3 separate regions of the Homo sapiens genome follow, and regions 1 and 3 are each reported to be linked to region 2. The links are microRNA targets in miRTarBase. Many come from high-throughput screens and were not tested one by one. Region 2 holds a microRNA gene; each other region holds the end of a gene's coding sequence.
Evidence for each region. Region 2 holds the annotated microRNA hsa-miR-630 (AGUAUUCUGUACCAGGGAAGGU, at 2,818-2,839, shown strand). A microRNA usually pairs through its seed, bases 2 to 8, with sites in the 3' UTR of a target mRNA and lowers its output. Matches are read on the target gene's strand: a 7mer-m8 pairs with bases 2 to 8, a 7mer-A1 pairs with bases 2 to 7 and ends in A, and an 8mer does both.

Region 1: miRTarBase lists PARP3 as a target of hsa-miR-630. Seed matches in the 3' UTR shown: 8mer at 803-810.
Region 3: miRTarBase lists TNFAIP8 as a target of hsa-miR-630. The part of its 3' UTR that is shown has no 7-base or 8-base seed match.

The regions. Positions count from the first base shown.
Region 1 is chr3:51,947,774-51,952,020 of GRCh38, forward strand. PARP3 (poly(ADP-ribose) polymerase family member 3) reads left to right here. Exons shown (of 11, transcript NM_001003931.4): 10 at 1-122; 11 at 538-1,094. The coding sequence ends at 707. Among named protein-coding and RNA genes, the nearest start is that of GPR62, 5.5 kb to the right of the region's middle.
Region 2 is chr15:72,584,460-72,588,706 of GRCh38, forward strand. It overlaps MIR630 (microRNA 630), which reads left to right and starts at 2,758; the gene lies at 2,758-2,854. It overlaps ARIH1 (ariadne RBR E3 ubiquitin protein ligase 1), which reads left to right. Exons shown (of 14, transcript NM_005744.5): 14 at 1-4,247.
Region 3 is chr5:119,392,876-119,397,122 of GRCh38, reverse strand. It overlaps TNFAIP8 (TNF alpha induced protein 8), which reads right to left. Exons shown (of 2, transcript NM_014350.4): 2 at 1-4,247. The coding sequence ends at 3,742. Among named protein-coding and RNA genes, the nearest start is that of TNFAIP8, 39 kb to the right of the region's middle. RefSeq lists an enhancer at 2,037-2,086.

The sequences.
Region 1 (4,247 bases), not on the chromosome of region 2:
CTACATGTTCCTGGGTGAGGTGGCCCTGGGCAGAGAGCACCATATCAACACGGACAACCCCAGCTTGAAGAGCCCACCTCCTGGCTTCGACAGTGTCATTGCCCGAGGCCACACCGAGCCTGGTGAGTCCTCAGAAGCTGTACAGCCCAAGGAGAGAGGTGGGGCCGAGATAGGGGCTGGGACATTTTCAGGGAGGGGGCTGTGAAGAGGGACAAAAAGAAGCTTCCCTGTCGTCACTCAGTTTGTCATTTGACAAACATCCACTGGTTCAACACATCATTCCTGGGCATCCCGGAGGGCTTCAAAAAGAGGAGTTGTTGACTGAGCATTGAAGGATTAGTACAAGTTTCCCAGAGAGAAGTCGGGGAGGACACCCCAGGCAGAAGCCCCAGCCCCTGCAGTGGTTTGGAGGTGGGCAAGGTGGAAATGAGCAGGCGTGCCCTGTGACAGACATGGAGAGCATAGGGGGCAGGACTTACTCGTAAGGCCTGGGACCAGTGACCCCTGGGCCACCCTGGCCCTTGCTGTGCCCTGCAGATCCGACCCAGGACACTGAGTTGGAGCTGGATGGCCAGCAAGTGGTGGTGCCCCAGGGCCAGCCTGTGCCCTGCCCAGAGTTCAGCAGCTCCACATTCTCCCAGAGCGAGTACCTCATCTACCAGGAGAGCCAGTGTCGCCTGCGCTACCTGCTGGAGGTCCACCTCTGAGTGCCCGCCCTGTCCCCCGGGGTCCTGCAAGGCTGGACTGTGATCTTCAATCATCCTGCCCATCTCTGGTACCCCTATATCACTCCTTTTTTTCAAGAATACAATACGTTGTTGTTAACTATAGTCACCATGCTGTACAAGATCCCTGAACTTATGCCTCCTAACTGAAATTTTGTATTCTTTGACACATCTGCCCAGTCCCTCTCCTCCCAGCCCATGGTAACCAGCATTTGACTCTTTACTTGTATAAGGGCAGCTTTTATAGGTTCCACATGTAAGTGAGATCATGCAGTGTTTGTCTTTCTGTGCCTGGCTTATTTCACTCAGCATAATGTGCACCGGGTTCACCCATGTTTTCATAAATGACAAGATTTCCTCCTTTTTTAAGGCTGAATGGTACTCTGTTATGTATATGCACCACATTTCCTCTATCCGTTCATCTATCAGTGGACACCAAGCTGCTTCCATATCTTGGCTATTGTGAACAGTGCTGCAGTGAACTGGGAAAGCAGACGTCTCTTGAACATACTGATTTCATTTCCCTTTGATGTATACCCAGTAGTGGGGTTTCTGGATCCATATCACCCCTTCTTGCCAGGCTCCCCTGTGTCCCAGACATCGATCCCCCTTCCCTCCAATCCCTGTTAGCCTTGATGTGTCTGTGGCCCCAGAGTCTTGCCTCCTAAAGTGATGGGTGTGGTACGGGCGTATTACAGGGACACAGATGCAGCAGCTTACTCAAGGGGCACAGCTGAGAGTGGCTTGGATCCCACATCCACCCAGGCCGTCCATCCTGGCCTGGACTGCATGTTGGAGCCATGTGGTCACCAAGGTAGGCTAAACTGCAGGCATGTGCAAGCAGCTTTACTAAACATGGTATTCTCTTGCCCCAGCCTCTGCCTGTCTGTGCCACAACTGTGCTGGGCCTGGGCCTCCAGCCACACTCCAGGGAGCGAGCGCTCACATGGGTTGATGTGGATCATGCACATACTCCTTGCCCCTCCTGGTCCATCACTGCAACAACCTGCTTCCTCTAATTGAGCCTTCAAGGGGGACCCCCACTGTCTACTCAGAACTATTTGTCATCTGGGGACCCACCTGGTGATTCTGTCCTTTATCCCAGACATTGCCAGGTGAATCAAGCATTCTTCATGTCTTGGCACCAAACATCCCTTTGTGTCTTTTTTTTTTTTTTTTTTTTTGAGGCAGGGTCTCACCCTGTCACCCAGGCTAGAGGGGAGTGGTACAACCACTGCTCACTGCAGCCTCAGCCTTCCCAGGCTCAGGTGATCCTCCCACCTCAGCCTCCAGAGTAGCTGGGACTACAGGTACATGACACCACACTTGGCTAATTTTTGTGTTTTTTGTAGAGACAGAGTTTTGCCATGTTGCCCAGTTTGGTCTCAAACTCCAGGGCTCAGGTGATCCTCCTTCCTCTGCCTCCCAAAGTGCTGGGATTACAGGTGTGAGCCACTGCACCCAGCCTCCTTTGTGTCTTAATCTAAATGTTACAAACAAGCTGAGCATATGTCAGAGGGGCACAGCTCTGCAATCATGAAAGGAGGCTGTTCAGGCAGGAATGCCAGTGATCACCAGGCAGGTCATCCTATCCACAGACAAAGGGTGCCATTGCTGGAGGAGGCCAACATCCAGGCTAGGGTTGCACATTGCATTTAGTTGTTGTGTCTCTTTAGTCTCCTTTAATCTGAAAACACTCCTCAGCCTTTTTTTTATTTTATAACTTTGACATTCTTGACACTCTTGAAGAATACAGGCCAGTTGTTTTATAGAATGTCTATCAGTTTAGGTTTCTCTGATGCTTTGTCGTGATTAGATTTAGGTATTGCATGGGCAGGAATGTGACATAAATGATATGCCCTAGGGAATTCCATCTGTAGGGGCATGGCCCATTCTTGGTGATGTTAATTAATTTTAATCATCCATTAAGGTGATGTCCGCCATGTTTCTCCACGGTGAAGCTACCATTTCTCCCCTTTGTAATTAATCAATAATCTGTGGGGAAATATTGTTGGGTGTAAATGTCCCTTTCCTCATCACCTTTCACCCACTAGCTTTATCCATCGATGATAACTTAACTGAAATCAACTACCTGAATCAATTTTTGCTAAGATAGTTGCAAATGGTAGTTATCTAACTCCATCATTTCTTTTATCTGTATTAGTTTCTGTCTTTATTATCAGTGTAGACTCATGGATTTTTATTTTATTCAGTGAGTTATAATCCATTACTGTCCTCAATTATTTTGATCCTCAAATTGTCCCAGATTTGGCCAGCAGAAGGTCCCTTCCGTGTCCCGATCATTTTTTGAGCACATCCTTTCTCTCTGGCATCACAAGATGTTCCAGGTTCATCTCGTACGAACCGGGAATCAGCCATTTCTCCAAGGAGCCCTGGTTTCCTGGAGCAGGAAATGTTTAGAATCCAAGATCTGGGCAATAGATGTGCTCCTTGGTACTGAGGTGTCATTGCTTTTAAGTCCTTCCAGCAAAGAGAGCTAAGGAATGTGTCTATGTGGCTGGGCGCAGGAGCTCTCACCTGTAATCCCAGCACTTTGGGAGGTCAAAGCCGGAGGATCTCTTGAGCCCAAGAGTTCAAGGCTGCAGTGAGTTATGATTGCAACACTACATTCCAGCCTGGATGACAGACTGAGACCCTGTCTCTAAAAAAATAAAAAAGGAAAAAAAAGGGGGGAGACAGAATATGTATGTGTGAATAAATAGCAAACACATCTCTCTATATCTATTTCTCCAGTTCCAGTCAAACACCACAGAGTTCTTCCATTCTTCCCCAATTCCCTATTTCCTCGATTCTTAAACAGTAAGAACCTGGGTTTCTATCAACATCAATATATCTACTTATTTGCTCAATCCTGCACAAAAAGGAGTTTCAGAATTGCCATACCCATACCCTGTGAAAAACAAACATTCTAAATAGAGCTCAAGATGTATCTGATCTTACTCAGTATTTTTTTTTTTTGTCGTTAGATTGAGGGTCCATGGTCAAAGTAACAGTTTGAATACACGTTCAGATGTTACTTGGATTGGTTCTTTCTCTTCAGTGTGGTTATTTTATTCGTCTGAAATACAGGTAGGCTCAGTCATTTCTGTCTACATTCTTCTTTGTTACTTTATTGTTTTCAATATGTAGAACATTAACATAGTTCCAAAAGGTCCACTCTATGCAAGCTGTGCTCAGAAGAGTCCTTCTATCCCCCACACTCCATTCCTACTCACCTGCTGGAGGGAGCCAGTTTCATTAGTTTCTGGCATATCCTTCCTGTGTTTTTTTTTTTTATTTTGTTTTGTTTTTTGGAAATTTTGCAATACACATACACACATACACATGCTAAGGAAGTGTTTTAATTTTTTATTTATATTAATGATGTCGAAGGGAGCATGAACTCTGCAACCCACCACAGTCCCCACCCCTCCCTATCGCGTTCCCCAGTCCACTTTTCTCATTTGCTGTTCCCACTTGGCCCCACCGAGCTCTCTCCAGGCTCTGGTAACTCAGGGGCTG
Region 2 (4,247 bases):
GATTTTAGTTATGGCTCGTCTGCTCACCCCTTCTCTACATTAGGGTGTCAAAGAGAATGTTTTGCTTTAAATATAAATAGCCATTCATTTAGTCTCAGATTGTGAATTTAAAATGGTGGATACCGAAATTGCTTGTGTGTGTTGCTGTGGGTTTGGTTTGAAGGCAAACACCCCTAGAACATGATATTCCCATCTAGTGCATTTAAATAGAAATCACTGAGTTTGCTGCTTTTTTATTGTCAGCAGATAGGAGAATTAATAATGCATTTTAGCTGTGATGTCCATTTTTATGAAATTCCTACTAAGAGCTATGTTAAAAGTAAAGGATGGTGGTGGTTGTATTAACTATATACCTGTTTAGGCCATTCTGGCTGTGGTATTTTTCAATAGGTCAGCATCTGTAAATCTGTCAGTTTTATACAGGAGTGCAGAGTGAACTAGGCAACTAGATTAAGAGGTCTAAATATGAAATACCAGTTGAGGCTGAGGACCTCTTCGTCTTCCTTTAAATGTCTTTTGCCTAGGGAGTGTTTACCATTTGTGAGGCAGCTTTGTCTGCTCTTACACTGTACATCCTATTACTCCATTGGGAAGTAGGTTCACTTTCCTCTGGCCTTTTGCCTAAGTTAGGCTTTGCTGAATCAACCCTACTTTTCCTTTTAGAAAAGGTTGTTACAGGAGATTTACTGGCAACTGTTCTTTTCCCATCAAAAATCAGTGAATGTTTGCTGAGTATAAATGCTGCTTCCTTAAACCACTTGTCGCTTTAGGATCAACTTTACCTGTACCTTTTCTCCTTTCCTCCCTTGCCACCTCAGGTGCAAATCTGAACTCAGTGTCTGCTTCTTCCATTTTCTCGTCTCTCTCCCCTCTTCCCCCATTATCCATATGACATTATTTTACTTCAAATGACAGCATCAATCTTAAAAAGATATACATTAAAACTAAGGAGTTTTTTTAAAGAAAGCCTGAATAAGTTCCTTTCCCTGGTAACTTTGAAAAGCAGTCAGAGTTGCTATATAGATATATGTGGCTCCTTTAAAATGCTTTGTGTATGTGTGGTGTTTAAAAAAAAAAAATCTTACCAGTTAACTTTGCAGTGTCTAGGTTTGAGTGTCATAAATCCACGTGTTCCTGTTGCAACAAATACCCAAAAATTGTGTGTGCACTTCCTAATACCAGTCTTCACCCATGGAGGAACAGTGCTTTTTAGAGATGCTTTCTATTTCAATGTTGGCATACTGCCTGAGGGTATTGCAGTTGTGGGTGCATTCCCTAATTTGTATGATCAAGATGAACTGGCCCTTTTCTACTTCCAAGCTTTTAACAGATACCACCATATTTGACAGAATTCCCAGAGTGAATTGCTTGTGTTATTAGTAGATTCAGTGCCCCCAGCTGGGATAGGCAAGCCATGACAGCTTCCCTGTTTCACCTACAGAAGTCTTATCTGAGGGATCTATTCACAGTAAGCACCAAGGTCTCCATGTCTTGAGGTCAGTTTCATTGTCTTTTGAAAAGTGCATGCTTCATTTGAACAATTCATTCAGCAGCAGATGGACTTTCAGTGATTTAAAATAAAATTTTGATCCAAAGCTCAGGACACAAACCACAGTGGTAAAATTGAGTAGCATATAATATCAGACTAAATTATCTGTAATTTTCCACAACCCAGATTGTATGTGTTTTATGTGTGTTTAAATAAATATGTTAGATACACGTGTATACATACACCCATATACAACAGATCCAAGACTGGCTGACTTCATTTGAAATGGTTGAATCTGCTGTGTAATAAAGTGGTTCAACCATGATTAGGAACTGAAATTTAGTAGAAGAGGGAAAAGGAGTTAATGTAACAAATTATTTTAGCTACAAACCCCGGTAATAGAGCACTTGGGGGATGGGATGGGGTGGGTTGGTGAGACAATCAGAATGGTAAATTGATTAAATGCTCCTAACCCTGTAATTTTGTGCATAGAGCACCCTATGCTGTGGAAATAACTGTTCTTAGATTTCATTGTAACTGGACTGTTCAGGTTGCCCAGAGGGAAAGAACATTCCTAATTCTAATAAAATAAACTTTTATTTTGTTATTCCATTAGTTACTTATGTTTATTTTTATAGTTAAAAAATGACTAAAGGTGGCTAATAGCCACCCGTATTATGTGCCTTATTCACTGTTCCCACTTAATATAAAATGTCAAAAATTGGTTGTTTCTTTGCAGGGAACTGTGAATGAGCCCATTCCCCCAACATTTAACTTGGTTAATGAAGCTTTCAGAGCATTTTCTGAAAGATTTCCAATTTCTGCATCTCAGATATTGAATTTAAATTGTTTGTGTTGTAACAGTGATACAAAAATGTTCAATAGCTCTTTGAATGCCACTTTTTTTAAAGAAAATACTTTAAAAGTCATTCTTAGCTAACCTCAAAACTCCTTTACATTACTTTCATTTTAGCTCACTCTTAAAGCTGATACTGTTATATAGGGATGAAGGGAGAGTTTTCTTAAAGAAGGTCCCAAAGTTGAAGATCGTTTGTCATTGATACTCTGGCCAAGTCCAGGTTTTAGGACAATTTAATTTACTCTTATTTGGATCTGTAATTATGGGAGTTTATCACTTTTCCTCTTCAAAGCACTTCAACTTACTGTCTAAAACAAGTGGAGAAGAAATTGCCATTTTTTATAAAGGAGGAAGATAAGGCTCACTGAGGTTAAATAACTCCCTCAATTTTTCATTTCCTTCTACCTGAAACTTAACATCATGCTACCTCTTTGTATCATATTTTGTTATTCTGGTCACAGAATGACCTAGTATTCTGTACCAGGGAAGGTAGTTCTTAACTATATTGTACTTTTAAACCACATTAAAGACTATTATAAATGCCTATCACTGCTACTGTTAGAGGTTGCTCTATACTATCTCTGATCTTTCATTTGTTGCAGTTTGCAACACAGTAGTTGAGAATAAGTGGTTTAGTATGATTTGCTTAATAGTACCCAAGTAATTTGCAGTTGTTGGTTTAGTTATTCAAATGAATTTCCATTGTAAAGAATTTTGGATAGTCTGCAGGAAATTGTTACAGGATGCACAGAACATCCCATATCCATTGGATCTCAGCCTTTGAGGCTTTAAAAAGATGATAAGCAGTGAGTTTTATGAGAAAATTTTGGCTCCTTCAGAAACAGGAAGATAAGTGGGCCCCTCAGATTTTTCATATATCTTTGGGGATAAAGTTGGTTATATCTGGTTTATTTTAGGGATTTTGCTTCTGTAGTTACCCAAGATCAAATAGCCAACTCAGAAATACTCAGTTGGATATCAATCAAATAGTGCCTACCAGGGGAGTAAACAGACAACTTTTAGGTTTTTAGTTTTTGCTTTTGTGTGGAGTTGAGTCCAATTTTTAAGGCAACTATTGTTGACCTTTCTCTAGGCGGTAGCATTTAGGATGGGAAAAAATAATATGAGTTATGTGCGAAAAGCAGTTTTCAGGCTATCATTTAGGGCCACAGATATGCTTATTTAGGACTATTTTCAGGGTAGGAGCCAGTTAAAGTTTGTATATCAGTCACACATTGATATGTAGCAGCTCTATCAATACCACAACAACCTTATTACCATAGTAATTCAGGGGTCTCAAGTAATCCAGGAGTCTCAAACTGAAATGTCAACAAGAGCCAAGTAAATATTTTAGAAATAGAGTACCCTGGAGTAGATGGGCTCTGAGAGGAGCCTGTGAAATCCAGACTTCATGTGAATTCTCTTAATTAAATGTGGGCCAAAGAAAACCCGGCCATGGGCAGTTTTTTTTTCCCAGCTTCTACTAGTCTTGGCTTGCAACAATGCCACTGTCCATCTGGCATTACCTAGACCAGTGATACTTAAACTTGACTGCGAATTGGAATCACTGAGAAGCTTTAAAAAATATTAGTGCCTGAGTGTTACTTTATGGAGATTATGATTTAATTGCTTTGGGTAGGCATCAGTAATTTTTGTAAAGCCCTTTACGCATTCTCACCCCTAATTCCAGCCGGTGATTCTCACATGCAGACTAGGTTGAGATCCTTGATCTAGACTGCCTTCTATAGTTGCAAAAAGAGAATATAGGCGAGCAACTCCAGATCATAAGGGACAAAATGATTCAAGGCAAATTGACTGGCTCAGAATAGGGCCTCACTGGAGGCCCTAGTTGAGTGGGTTTTGTGGAATGGTGCCTCCCAAGGGTCTGGTGTGCAGTGC
Region 3 (4,247 bases), not on the chromosome of region 2:
ACATGGTGGGAGAAAAAGAACTTTCCAGATAATTGTGAATGGCATACTATTATATAAGAGTTTAAAACGCAATATTTCTGTACGATCAAAGTTCTTAACTCATGCTTTTTTTTTTTTTTTTTTTTTTTGAGACGGGGTTTCGTTCTTGTTGCCCAGGCTGCAGTGCAGTGGTACAATCTCAGCTCACTGCAACCTCTGCCTCCCAGGTTCCAGCGATTCTCCTGCCTTAGCCTCCCAAGTAGCTGGGATTACAGGTGCCTGCCACCACATCTGGCTAATCTTGTGTATTTTTAGTAGCAGTGGGGTTTCACCACGTTGGCCAGGCTGGTCTCGAACTCCTCACCTCAAGTGATCCTCCCACCTCCGCCTCCCAAAGTTCTGGGCTTACAAGCATAAGCCACCGCACCCACCCCATGCTTTACTCTTAAACTAATTTTGAGTTGTATATGAAAGGCCTAATAATCAGAAAAAGGCTATTTCTTAACTTAACTTGCTCAAATATTTTGAGCCTCCAAATCTGGAAAATAATGTTGAAGTTTGAAACTGATGCCGTGCCTACTCTAGGGAGCACAGTACTGAACTGCTGCTTCCTTGCTTCTCTTGGTGAATGCACATTGAGTGCCTTGTCATGCTCTGAACCCACCACTGCTAGGGACAGCTGTGGGGGAGCAGCTCACTGCACCTCAGAAGTCAACGTTAAAAGTCATTGTGAGCACCTAGAAGTGAAGTTCCACGAGACAGAAAACTGAGCCACAAGATGCCCCCAAAGTAGGAGTCATGTTGAAAACTTTGAAAAATGTCTTTGTACAACATCTACACAGATCTTTAGAGAACAGGCCAGACCTGTGCTGACTTAGGTACTGCCTAAAATGTCACTATATGAGGAACCATTTCAGCAGCATACTGCCCACGCTTCTCTGAGCCAAAGATGTTCCTAGCACTGCCTTTAGCCATATCATCTTTAAGTGAAAATAAGATTTTATACATATTCCGGCTGGGACACCTCGAGCACATGTGACCTCAGGAAATTCCTTAACTTCTATTCCCCTAGTTTCCTTATCTATAAGATGGTGAAGATTGTGGCAGAATTAAATGAGTTAATGTGCCCGACACATAATACAAACTACTCTGCGTTAGTTGTCCATTAGTATTATCATCCACTTATCATATCCACTCATAATTTTTGCAGAGAAGCCACCAGCACAAAATAAAATCAATTACAACACAATTTTTTTCAAAACGTGAACAGATACTATTTTATAAAAAGGTTCATAGGATCCCCAAATTAGTATTAACTCGGCTCAGATTTATCTACCCTAAGCACGTGGGGATTCTTCCCAGCTCCCACGCTCCTTGCCACCCTAAATGCTCAAGGGGAGTCCTATTGTATTAGAAATGAACTTGCTAATCACGACTTTGGACCTGATCCAAGACATGCTTTTCAGGCACAGCACTGGTAAGGAGATGGGTCCCCTCCAGAAAATGCTGAGAAATGGTAGCAAACAGGATTCCCTCCTTCGGTCTACTCCTCACTGCCTTCCCTCTGTGGGAGATGAAGCATTGCTCCCCCAATCCCATGCACATTTGATTGCTAGCCTGCTGGCACAACCCTATGATCCAGTGTGTCCAGAGAGATCCAGATTTCTCCCTCCGTACGTTTTCTCTCTCTGGTTGGTCCTGTCTATAGCTACAGATGAGCAAGAAGCATCCATGGACTGCCCAGGGCTTTCGTTTCCCATACCTCTGCTGTTTGAGATCTGGAGAACAGAACACATCCAGTCAGTAGCTCACACCCCCCATCACATTCTCAGCCTTCACATGTGAGGAAAACAGCTGGTCAAGGAAGGCTGCTGAATTCCATTTATAAGCCACTTAGCAAGTTATGAAGCTAGAAGGGTCATTTCTGTAGTCACTGTGTTATTGTTACAGCATATACTGATCACCTACTGGCTCTAGGAAGTGAGAATGATACTTTCAGTTCAAATCTTAGTGTCAGGATTTAATATCAAACAGGAAGAAACTCTACACCTTTGCTGCTTGTCTTAGCCAAGCAAATGAGGGTGTCAGAGAAACTGACCACCCTCTCTAGGCTGAAATGGGTTAGAGCAGATCTCAACTTCTGGAATTTTTAGTTGTGGAACCTTTCCTGGTAAACTATTATTTTAATGTCAATATTCTGGGAGGCAGGCAAATTTAAGGCAAGAGAGTACACTAAATCATAGGCACAGTGGCTCACACCTGTAATCCCAACACTTTCGGAGGCCGAGGCAGGCAGATCATTTGAAGTCAGGAGTTCAAGACCAGCCTGGGCAACATGGTGAAACCCCATCTCGACTAAAAATACAAAAATTAGCTGGGTGTGGTGGTGCATGCCTGTAATCCCAGCTACTTGGGAGGCAGAGGCAGGAGAATCACTTGAACCTGGGAGGCAGAGGTTGCAGTGAGCCAAAATCATGCCACTGCATTCTAGCCTAAACAACAGAGCGAGACTCAAAAAAAAAAAAAAAAAAATCATAGACACAGTGACAATGGAAATGTTTATTGCTGGTGGTTGGGTCTGTCATTTCCTAGAGGACATAGCTGGCCAGCAGATTTTCATTTCTTTTTTACAAAATAAACAAATGCCTACTTTATTATTTATACACAGAAAATTATATAGAAACACCACACAAACTGCTTGAAATACAAATATTCTTTGGTTTACTTATCAAAGTAAAAAATAACAAAAATCTTATCAGTTAAATAAAAAAGTGACATTCTTTATCAAGCCTTCTTAAACACTGAAACGCACGCATTTTTATGCTCATGTTCTTTAGCAGTATTTCTCCCCTTTTGCCCCTCATTCCCCTAAATTGTTTCAATGAGTTCATCTGTAGAATGAAGATTGTTACCTTTCTTAATGCTACTTACTTTTTATTATCTCAATATCAAGACCAATCTAGACTTTTTTGTCTCTTACATGTGAAATGGATGTAAAAAATGGAAAATTCACCAGCACTTTTTAAGATAACATAAAAGAAGCCCTAAGCAAGCATTTCAAGGCAATGACACACCATTACATTTCTGAGAAATTTAAGTATCATTGGTACTTAAAAGGAGAACTCAATTCCAGAAGCATATTCTTATACTGGACATTATTCATAATAGCTAATATAGTTCATTTCCACAGTACTGATTTCAGATAAGCCATTTTTTTTTTCCTGAGGGTTGACTACCTCAGACTTAAATCCTGAATGTCGATGACTCAATCTTAACAAAACAGTCAGCTGTAGACATGAAAATTGAATTGTTTCAAAAGGAGCAATGATAGCAAGAGAAAGTTCTTGGCATTTTAAGAAAAGTACATATACATAGCAAGAAATGAAAGTAAATCAAAATACATAGCTTTGTACATGTTAGAAATATCCAATGTGCCACCAACACAACAACTGCCCTATTAAAAAGTCCTCAGGTCTGGAGACATCTGTATTTTTCTTTGTATAACTACATTTGCATTACCCAACCACATATCTCTCCCATGGTCTGTTACCCGTTAGGAAGCTTTTAACCAGAATTTTTGGCAATATGCTTTTCTTCAAATAAAACAAGCCTTCAAATAAATCATTATGTCTGACAACTGAATTGGGTAAAGTCTTTCTGAAATATGTGTAATCTTTAGAAAATTCTTCTTTTTTCCTTCATAAATCAGCAGTGCTCCATCTTCAAATAAATCATGATCAGTCACAATCTTAACTCATGTGCTCATATGTTCTCTTCATCCAACATTTTGTTGATACCATCACATAGTTTTTGTAAGTGGGGTTTAAAATTCCCAAAAGGATTATACAAGGCAGCCAAAAATTCACAATCTGAAAAATGATCAAACACATTATTAACCCGTCCATGTGACTTGGCAGTGAGGTGGCGCTGAATGATTTGGTGCAGCATCTCTCTGCATTCATTTAACAGCCTGGATAACACATTCCGGTCAAAGGTATAATCCACCTGATGGAAACTGACCACGGTCATAGCAAGCTGATGAACTTTCTTCTTAAATTTCTCCATCAATGCTAGCTCATCTTGATTAAACTGATTATTCCTATAAAGAATGGCCAGCTTGATGACTGTCTTGATGAGGTTCTTGATGATCTTCTCTGCCTCCTTCTTGTTTTGGGTGTACTCCCTGGTCACTCTGTAGAGCTCATCCAGCACCTCACTACTTGTGTCGTCTATTAAGGTGGTGGCGATGGATTTGGACACCATTTTAC